Homo sapiens: one gene and its partner. The protein of the gene in region 1 purifies or fractionates together with the protein of each later gene. This does not show direct contact. Each region holds a gene or a part of one and is shown in the gene's direction. Other genes may lie near its edges.

Region 1 (3,071 bases):
CGCCTGTAATCCCAGTGCTTTGAGAGGCTGAGGTGGGCGGATCTCCTGAGGTCAGGAGTTCGAGACCAGCCTGACCAACATGGAGAAACTCCATCTCTACTAAAAATACAAAATTAGCCAGGCGTGGTGGTGCATGCCTGTAATCCCAGCTACTTGGGAGGCTGAGGCAGGAGAATTGCTGAACCCAGGAGGCAGAGGTTGTGGTGTGGTGAGCCGAGATCGCTACATTGCACTCCAGCCTGGGCAACAAGAGCGAAACTCTGTCTAAAAAAAAAAAAGGCAGCCAGGCTCCATGGCTCACAACTGCAATCCCAGCACTTTGGGAGGCCAGTGGGGGCAGATCAGCTGAGGTCAGGAGTTCGAGACCAGCCTGACCAACATGGCGAAACCCCATCTCTACAAAAAATACAAAAATTAGCCAGACATGGTGGTGGGCATCTGTAATCCCAGCTACTCAGGAGGCTGAGGCAGGAGAATCACTTGAACCCAGGAGGCGGAGGTTACAGTGAGCCGAGATCGTGCCACTGCTCTCCAGCATGGGCGACAGAGCAAGACTCCATCTCAAAAAGAAAAAAAACCTTTTTAAAAATAATTTCAGATTTTAAGTTTTATATCCTTAATGTGTTCTTTATTTCAAAGAGAATGTATGCTTGTAAACAATAAAAACAAGACTGTATAAAGGAAAAGGGAGTATCTTTGGTCCTCCTAGTTCCAGAACTAGATACTATCTGGAAACAGCACAGTTTTATATCCTAATGAAACTTCCTTTGAAACACTTTGACATTTTTTATTTTAAAGTAGGGTAGGACGTTATGTGTTTTATTTTATAATCTTTAGATTTAGGATTTTAAATAATTAAACCAAAATACATTTGAAATTACTCCACAGATATCTTGAAGCCTACCTATATACCCGCAATGCACTTACTTAATTGAAATTTACTTTTATTCCTAGAATGGAATCTATAGAGAAAATGGAATCTGATTTTAAAAACTGCCATATGTTTCTTGTAACCATTTTAAACAAAGCCGTCTGTAGAGGATCCTTTCCCCATTGTGAGTATATCATGTTAAAATATTTCTACCTCTGTATTTCCTTGTAACTAAGTGTATGTGTCATTGTTTTGTTACTGATCCCATGAAGAATTAGAAATTCTCACCATTTTCAAAACTGAAAAGTCCCTTAGCAGTTGTCCCATGCTTTGAATTGCTTTTTAAGCATTACGGTGAGGTGAGTGTAAGCCTGAGGATCTTACTTTCTGGTATACCATTTATTACAACAGATTTCTAAAACTCCTATTAAATAAAGTTGATGGCAGAATAGATTTCTGTCACACTTCACTATCGTGTAGTTTTTGTAACTATTTCTTTTCAAAATCTAGTCTTTTTAAAAATTTTTTTAGGAATTTAAAGCTCCTGGCCTGGCGCGGTGGCTCATGCCTCTAATCCCAGCCCTTTGGGAGGTTGAGTGAATCACTTAAGGTCAGGAGTTGGAAGACCAGCCTGGCCTACATGGCAAAACCCTGTCTCTGCTAAAAATACAAAAATGAGCTAGGCATGGTGGCACATGCCTGAAATCCCAGCTACACAGCAGGCTGAGGCAGGAAAATTGCTTGAACCCGGGAGGCAGAGGTTGCAGTGAGCTGAGATTGTACCATTGCACTCCAGCCTGGGTGACAGTGGGACTCCGTCTTCAAAAAAAATTTTTTTTCAACATTTAAACCTATTGTTTTAACCTTATTTTTATTCTTCCCACAGTGGAATCTCTAGCGTTGTCACTCATGGCTGGCATGGAACAAAGTTAAATGTCTTCAGCGTAATAAATATCTCCGACTTTGTCATCATACATGTACATTTCCACCATGTGCAGCTGAAAAGTGAAAATATTTTTATTTTGGTTTATTTGTAAAACTTGTCCACAGTCAGCCTGGCACAGTCGCTCATGCCTCTAATCCCAGCACGATGGGAGGCCAAGACAGGCAGATCACTTGAGCCCAGGAGTTTGAGGCCAGCCTGGGCAACATGGTGAAACCCGGTGTCTACCAAAAATACAAAATGTATCCAGACATGGTGGTGTGTACCTGTAGTCCCAGCTACTCAGGAGGCAAAGATGGGAGGATTACTTGAGCCCAGGAGGTCAAGGCTACAGTGAGCCATGATTGCACTACTGCAGTGCAACCTGGGTGACAGAGTGAGACCCTGACTCAGAAAGAACCACTTGCCCACAGTCCAGACAGATGGATTGTAGGTGGGTTTTCTGGAGATTAGTAGATACTGTATAGAGTTGTATACATAAAATTGTGTCAGTAGTACAAAGTGTATATAGGCTGTTTACTCTTACATTTCCTACTGTAAGATACAGATTTATGGTACTGATACCTTTAAATTATATCATATTTTGAAAATGTAATTACTGATATTCAAAATAAATTAAAGGACTTAAAATCATTTTATTATCCTTTTGCTGCTGTCCTACAGTCACAGAAGCTTTTTATATAGAGTTTTACATGTTGTCTTCCCTAAAAGTTGTCTTAGATGTAGCTGTCCTAGAAATGTTTATATTTTGGCTGGGTGTAGTTTCTCAAGCTTGTAATCCTGGCACTTTGAAAGACTGAGGTGAGAGGATTCCTTGAGGCCAGCAGTTTAAGACCTGCCTAGGCAACATATGAGACCCCATCTCTCCAAAAACAACTTAAAAATTAGCCAAGGGCTGGGCACGGTGGCTCACCCCTGTAATCCCAGCACTTTGGGAGGCCGAGGTGGGCGGATCATCTGAGGTCAGGAGTTCAAGACCAGCCTGGCCAATGTGGTGAAACCCCGTCTCTACTAAAAATACAAAAAAATTAGCCAGGTGTGGTGGCCCACATCTGTAATCCCAGCTACTTGGGAGGCTGAGGCAGGAGAATCACTTGAACCCAGGAGGCAGAGGTTGCGGTGAGCCTAGATTGTACCACTGCACTCCATCCTGGGTGACAGAGCAAGACTCCGAAAAAAAAAAATTAGCCAAGCATGGTGGCACATGCCTGTGGTCCCAGCTACTTGGGAGGCTGAGGTGGGAGGATCGATTGAGAC
Region 2 (7,178 bases), on another chromosome or scaffold:
GTAAGGCCCTGGGAATCAAGAAGATAGGATGGAGTCAAAGGAACACTATATTTATGGCCATATATATGTGTGTATGTTCATATGTATGTTAAGATGTTTGTATTAATTTCTTACTGCTTTATAGTGCCTAGTAAGAAAATGATGTGAATGTATGTTCTTATCTGTGCAAAGGGAAGGCTTTTCTAAGCATAAATATAAAGAAGTATAGTTATAAGTCACTGGCAACAAGTTTGATAAATATAAATATATAAAAATTTAAAACTTCTGACAAAAAGCAAGGCAAAAATTCACAAAATTTAAATGAAATAGGGAAGGTATTTACAATGTATGAGAGCAGTTGCAATGTAAGAGCAGTTGCAAATTAGTATTTTAAAAATCTTCATAGCCCAATAGAAAATAGGCAAAGTAGAATAATGAGCAGTTTGCAAAAGAAGAAAGACAAATAGTCATTTCATATTTTCAACTGAGAACCTTTAAGGCATGAACATCAATGAATTACAATTTTTTTCATAAATTAACAGTTTTAAAAAAGGATAGTAATCAGAGTACTTGCAAATCAGAAGTAACCCAAATGTCTAACATGATATTATTTAGGTAAATTAGTATACTCATGCATTCATATCTTAAACAGCTATTAAAATCAAGTAGAAAACATTGACATGGCTGTTTATAATGAAGTATGATTCCAGGTTTTCTGTTGATACTCTACTGAATACACAGAAGCATACATACACACAGAAAAATACTTAAAGGATACCCCCTCAAAATGTCAACCACTTTTTCTCTGGGTAGTGGGATTATGGATGGTTTTTCTTCTTTGTGATAAAAAAAATTTTTTTCTATTAAATAATTATCTTAGTAGAGACTGAAAAACTATAACCTATGGTCTAGCCAACTTATTTTTGTAAAGTTTATTGGAACACAGCCATGCTTTTCATCTATATATTGTCTGTAACTACTTCTAAATAAGTTTTTGAAACCTTCCCCCCACCTTTAGTGAGTGGTATGTTTTTTATATTTAGAAACAATCTCCCTCCTCCACAAACATGCAACATTCTTACACAATAATGTGGTATAAGAAAAAATAGCATTGCTGCTTATACTGCCGGGATTTTTTCCCCCCCATAAGCTTCTTGATTTAATTCTTTTCTTATAAATAATTTAGTCTGGAACAAGATAGGGAGTTAATGACTTAAGTGCTGCTGATACTGAAATAAGTTAATATTTATTTTAAATATAATTTGGAGGCCAGGTGCGGTGGCTCACACCTGTAATCCCAGCACTTTGGGAAGCTGAGGCAGGTGGAGTGCTTGAGTCCAGGAGTTTGAGACCAGCCTGGGCAAAATGGCAAAATCCTGTCTCTTAAAAAAAAAAAAAAAAAAAAAATATATATATATATATATATATATAAAATGCACACACACAAGTAAATATATTTATATATATAAATTATATATATATAATTTAGTAAATCAGTGTTTTGTTTATCCAGGATTCTTAGCTAATATCTTAATGATATTCTAAAGAGAAGATTTAACAGATATAGAAAGTTAAGAAATGAAATTCTGTTAGTATTATCACAGAAATAATTGGAGACATTTAAAGAATTCAATGTGGTTACTTAAGGGTCTTTTAAAAAATATGTAAAAGATGGTTGAATGGTGGGTACATAAGCAATGATGAGCAAGTAAGTTATGAACTTCTGGAAATGGTGATGGCTACTGTGTACCTGATTCTGTACAGAAATGCTATTTAATCCTCAAAATAATTGTGTCAGGAAAACAAGAGTGTTTTCTATTATGTAGATGAGAACGCTGAGTTTTGGAGAGTTTAAGTAATTCACCTAAATCATACAGAGGTTTGCTGAGCGTCCACTGAACTTAGGTTTATCTGAAGGGAACATTTATCATTATCTTTAGCCTTTTTTTTTTTTTTTTTAAATAGTCTGCCATGTAGGTCCCAAGAACTTGAAGTAAGATACAGAATTTAGGTTTTGTCTTGATCAAGAATACATTTTTAACTGGTTATCAAGTTGTGTTAAAGACAGTGGTAAGCTCCTTGTTGTTTGATAGATGCAAACAGATTCTGGATAACCATGTTTTAAGGATGTTGTAGGAAAATTCCTGCTGTTGCTAAGAGGTTAAACTTTATGAACTTCGAGAATCTACCAGGTCTGTGATTTTTATGGTGTTTTTAAAAATTCTACTTGTGTATTTAGTCTAAATTTAGATCATGTGAAGGACGATAACTATATGAACTCCTAAAGTGCTGTAGAAATCTTTTTAGAAATCATGTTTTGCCTTATATTTTGATATGTTGTGTATGACTCTGTAATCATTAACATAATGCACTAAGTAGGTCTGTGTCTTTTATATAGTTAACATTCATGTAGTTTATTTTTTCTTGAATATGGACCAGAGAAAAGATTTGACTATTCAAGTGGATATACTTTTTCCCAACAAAAATAAAAATTATATAAACCAACATTTTCTCTTTGTACTTTAGCCATATGAAAATGGGCAAATTTAATGGGTTAACATATTAATTGTCTTAACTTAGGTGCCAGGTGACTAATAACTCCTTTTTGTTTTTTTTTCTTAGCATTTGGTTTCTGTATTTCCTAGACATTTTTTGTTGTTGTTGAGAGCTAATATATATTATTTGAGACATTTTAGAATTAAGTAGAATATAAATTCATAGGGAAAAATTAGCTTAAATGTAAAGTACTTAATTTTCCGCCTAGTAAATGACAACATCAATACAAGTTTGACAGTAACATTTTAGTAAAAAAGAAAAGTAGATAAAATTCAGTTAGTTTTAGTCTAAGATCAGTTTATTCAAACTAGATCTTTGTTTATTCTGGTCCATGGAAGCTAGGAAGAGAGAATATCTCCACTACCTGCAGGGATTTGTGTTTAGAGAAAGGCCAGCATTGCCCTCAGGCTAATGGTTTTGAAACAATGGATATAGTCCATCCCCAGTCTAGAGTGTTGCCAGTTTTTCCTTTGTGGTTTAATTTTTTTTTAAATTATGCTTCAGGTGTTGAATTGTCAGTGCATCAGATGCTCAGATTCAAACAAATGTATCAAAATATCTAAAATATAGAAAACAAATACAAAATATTATTGCTTTTTTTTTTTCTCCCAGTATTCCCTTATACTTGTTGATTTGACTGTGACAAGGCCTTTTATATATGGTGGATGTTCTAACCCTGATGAATTAATGTAGATAATCTCAATGTATTATATTTTTCCTCTGAAAGGAGAAGATTGAGGTAGCTATACTCCAAGATAATAAAATGACAAATATTAATAGGCTATTGATTGGTATGTTTCAGGTATTGGTATGTCATCTTATGGTCCACTGAATGACACCGTGGTTGTCATGATTGAAATTTGTTACCCTTTCTTTTCTTTTCTTTTCTTTTTTTTTTTTAAGACAGAGTTGGGTTTTTTTGTTTTGTTTTGTTTTGTTTTTAAGACAGAGTCTCACTCTGTCGCCCAGGCTGGAGTACAATAGTGTGATCTTGGCTCACTGCAGCCTCCACCTCCTAGGTTCAAGTGGTTCTCTTGCCTCAGCCTCCCAAGTAGCTGTAATTACAGGCGCCTGCCACCATGCCCAGCTAATTTTTGTATTTTTAATAAAGATGGGGTTTCACTAGGTTGGGCAGGCTGGTCTTGAACGCCTGACCTCAGATGATCCACCTGCCTCGGCCTCCCAAAGTGCTGGGATTACAGGCGTGAGCCACCACGTCTGGCTGAAACCTGTCACTCTTACACATCAGAGAAATCCTAAACCCCATGTGAATAGTGTGGTTGGCCATAATTTATATGGCTTATATCAAATGTCCTTATGAATGCTTATAATTACATAAAATTTATTCTTTCATTTTTATAGTCTGTTCGGCACTTGAAGTACTCCTTGTTTAAGAAATCACTACTGGGCAGTGTTTCGGATAATGGAATAGTAACTCTCTGGGATGTAAATAGTCAGAGTCCATACCATAACTTTGACAGTGTACACAAAGCTCCAGCGTCAGGCATCTGTTTTTCTCCTGTCAATGAATTGCTCTTTGTAACCATAGGCTTGGATAAAAGAATCATCCTCTATGACACTTCAAGTAAGAAGTAAGTGTGACATGCTTATTTCTTAATTTAGTAACAAATAGCTATTATTCCATTAACAGGCATATTTGTGATTTATATAGACCTCTGATTAGTGTCCAGGGGTCCTAAAGTTTGTACAGTTGATGGATCTAGTAAGAAAGAATTTTCTTCTTATGCAGAAAGAAATAGATGGGTTGCAGGTAGTATTTAGGGTACTTCTGAAACATGAACATAGAGAGATGACATCTTAATGATTTCACATTTTAATTTTAGCATCTTTTCCACAATATGATAAAATGCATATGTTTTTAACCCAAATGATTAATTTGCTTTAAAACTGATTAATTATCTAGAGGAAGGTTTAGAAACGATTGACATTTTGGGCTGGGTAATTCTTTGTTGTGAGGGGCTGTCCTGGGTATTGTAGGATATTCATCAGCATCCCTGGCCTCTGCTTACTAAATACCAATGGCCTAAATTGTGTCCAGACATTGTCAGATGTCCCCTGGTAGTAACCAGGGACAACCTGGGAGCACCCACTTGAGAAATACTGATTATGTACTGGTGTACATAATCCTCTAAGCATTTGGGCCCACTGTACCCTCTTCTTGTTAAATTTAGGTATGCTTAGTTAGCTAAAAAACAAAAACAAAAACAAAAGAATGCAAGAGTGATACAGTTGTATTCAAGATGCTTACCACTGTCTGTAGATCATGTGGAGTATGAATGTTACTACAAGGGAAGGTCCCACTGTCAGCCTTTATTATGATGCTAGAATTTTTACTGTTAGGACTTATTTGCTGTCTTCTTTTATGGAACAATTTACTGAGAGCCCAGTAAGCCATTCTTCTTTTCTACTATACACACCAGTAAAGAGCTCAGCTTCAGCAGATCACCATCCGTATTTCTTTATTAGCTTCCTAAGGATCAAGCATGTGAACTGTGTTCCTCTTAGCTTTTTGGCCAAGACTGTACAACTAAGAACAAAGTAACAGCTGCTCCCCTGTGAAAGGTCATAGTCCTCATGAGGCCTAAGCAGGTCAATAAATGGAAAGTGGATACTTAGGCCCTCCTCAACCATGAGGCCAGAGCCCCTGTTTGTGGCGTAATAGACAGTTCTGCTACATTCACTGTCAGAGTAATAATTAAAGAAATAGGTGCTGCTTCTATAAGATGCAGAATGTACCTATTGGAAGTGAATAGAAAAGTAAGATGGAATGTTTAGCAGTTCTCTATATGCCATTTTATTAGAAATGTCTCTAAGTCAAATTCTGAAATTATGCTTTAAACAAATATTTGGGATATGTGTGCTCTTTGACCAGTTTGAAGTGTTAATAACTCTGGTTTTGGTATATAGTTACTTATATAAGCTAATATACCTGTACACACTAACATTTCTACACATACTTTGTTCTCCTTTCCAAAGGCTAGTGAAAACTTTAGTGGCTGACACTCCTCTAACTGCGGTAGATTTCATGCCTGATGGAGCCACTTTGGCTATTGGATCTTCCCGGGGGAAAATATATCAATATGATTTAAGAATGTTGAAATCACCAGTTAAGACCATCAGTGCTCACAAGACATCTGTGCAGTGTATAGCATTTCAGTACTCCACTGTTCTTACTAAGGTGAGACATTTTCTTTTCAGCATTTTTTATTTTATTAAATAAATCTAACTCAGAATATGGAAATTATATGTGGTCAATTAAACAGTATAGTTTTGTTTCATAATTACATAATGATTTTACATGTAATGTATAATAATTTTAGTACAAAGCCATTTGATATTTAGTTTTAAAACTTTTTTTCTTTTTTTTTTCTCCTTATATATCTCTCTTTTTAAAAGTATTTTAAAAGACATTTTAATTTAGAGGGAAACTCAGGTCTGCCAGCAAGCTTAAGATTTGCAAGGAAAAAAATATATTTTTTAATCTAACAGGGAATTTATAAAATATTAATGTATAGTATGAAACATTAGTAACCTGAGCTTTTAAATATTCCATTACATTTCAGTCAAGTTTAAATAAAGGCTGTTCAAATAAGCCCACAACAGTGAACAAACGAAGTGTTAATGTGAATGCTGCTAGTGGAGGAGTTCAGAATTCCGGAATTGTCAGAGAAGCACCTGCCACGTCCATTGCCACAGTTCTACCACAACCTATGACATCAGCTATGGGGAAAGGAACAGTTGCTGTTCAAGAAAAAGCAGGTAAATGTTGCTTATATATTGTTGGAGGGTTGGTTTGTTTTTTTTTTGTTTTTTTGTTTTTGGCTTGCATATAATTAGCACATTCTTCAAGAACATAGAACTCAAATTTATTTGAGTACTTAGGTAAAATTAGTAGAAGTGAAAATCATTGAAGAAGTGAAAATAGTAACTTTGGCTATTAATTTCAAAAATGATAAAAGGCCCTTATTGTTTAGCTAAACTTCTCTTGTGAGAAATATTGTCTTAAAAATGGAAGGAGGCTAACTCAGAAATTATTCATCCTTAATACTACTAAAGACTGAATGGCTTTTCATTGTGTCTTCAGATTAACCAGTAGAAAATATGAAACTTTGACACTGTCTTATGATTTGATCTCATTAAATAAAAATAAATGAGAATGTTGCAATTTCTAATGATTTCTTCTTCTCTCATGTAATTGGCGAAACAGTTCTGAAACAGGATTCATTTAGACTTTATTGATGTGTTATATGATAAGCTTTCTCTTATTGTAGAAAATATTTCTTGCTCACAATAAAAAAATATTCTGTAAATTCCTGAAAACCTTTTCATTTTTATTTTAAGAAGTTATGCTATACTGTCAACGTGCAACAAATACTTTAGAAAGTCTACATGGTATACTAGTATGTTTCTGAAATATTGTGCTTAGTAGAAATACATATATCCATGTCTTTTAAATTTTTCAGGATAAATACTTGGGCAAAAATATTTATTGGTGTTTTTTTTTAGCATGATTTTGCTATTTCCAAGTAGAAGCAAAACTTTAATTTGTTGATCTTGATAGTGTGGAGTAGTATTTTAAAGTAAGTATATTCACTATAAATTTCCTGTGAATATCTGTATCA

What was found. Proteins that work in one complex are often made in the same cells at the same time.
Region 2: the proteins of TUBGCP5 (region 1) and NEDD1 purify together in Homo sapiens (affinity purification with mass spectrometry; 3 studies listed by BioGRID and IntAct, with this or other methods). This does not show direct contact.

The regions. Positions count from the first base shown.
Region 1 is NC_000015.10:22,998,553-23,001,623, reverse strand, and holds the end of TUBGCP5 (gamma-tubulin complex component 5), read left to right. Parts: intron 1-954; coding exon 955-1,055; coding exon of another isoform or gene 1,056-1,102; exon of another isoform or gene 1,103-1,340; intron 1,341-1,757; coding exon 1,758-1,804; 3' UTR 1,805-2,447; downstream 2,448-3,071. UniProt on the Homo sapiens protein: Component of the gamma-tubulin ring complex (gTuRC) which mediates microtubule nucleation.
Region 2 is NC_000012.12:96,931,079-96,938,256, forward strand, and holds part of NEDD1 (protein NEDD1), read left to right. Parts: intron 1-3,897; coding exon 3,898-4,127; intron 4,128-5,532; coding exon 5,533-5,734; intron 5,735-6,119; coding exon 6,120-6,315; intron 6,316-7,178. UniProt on the Homo sapiens protein: Required for mitosis progression. Promotes the nucleation of microtubules from the spindle.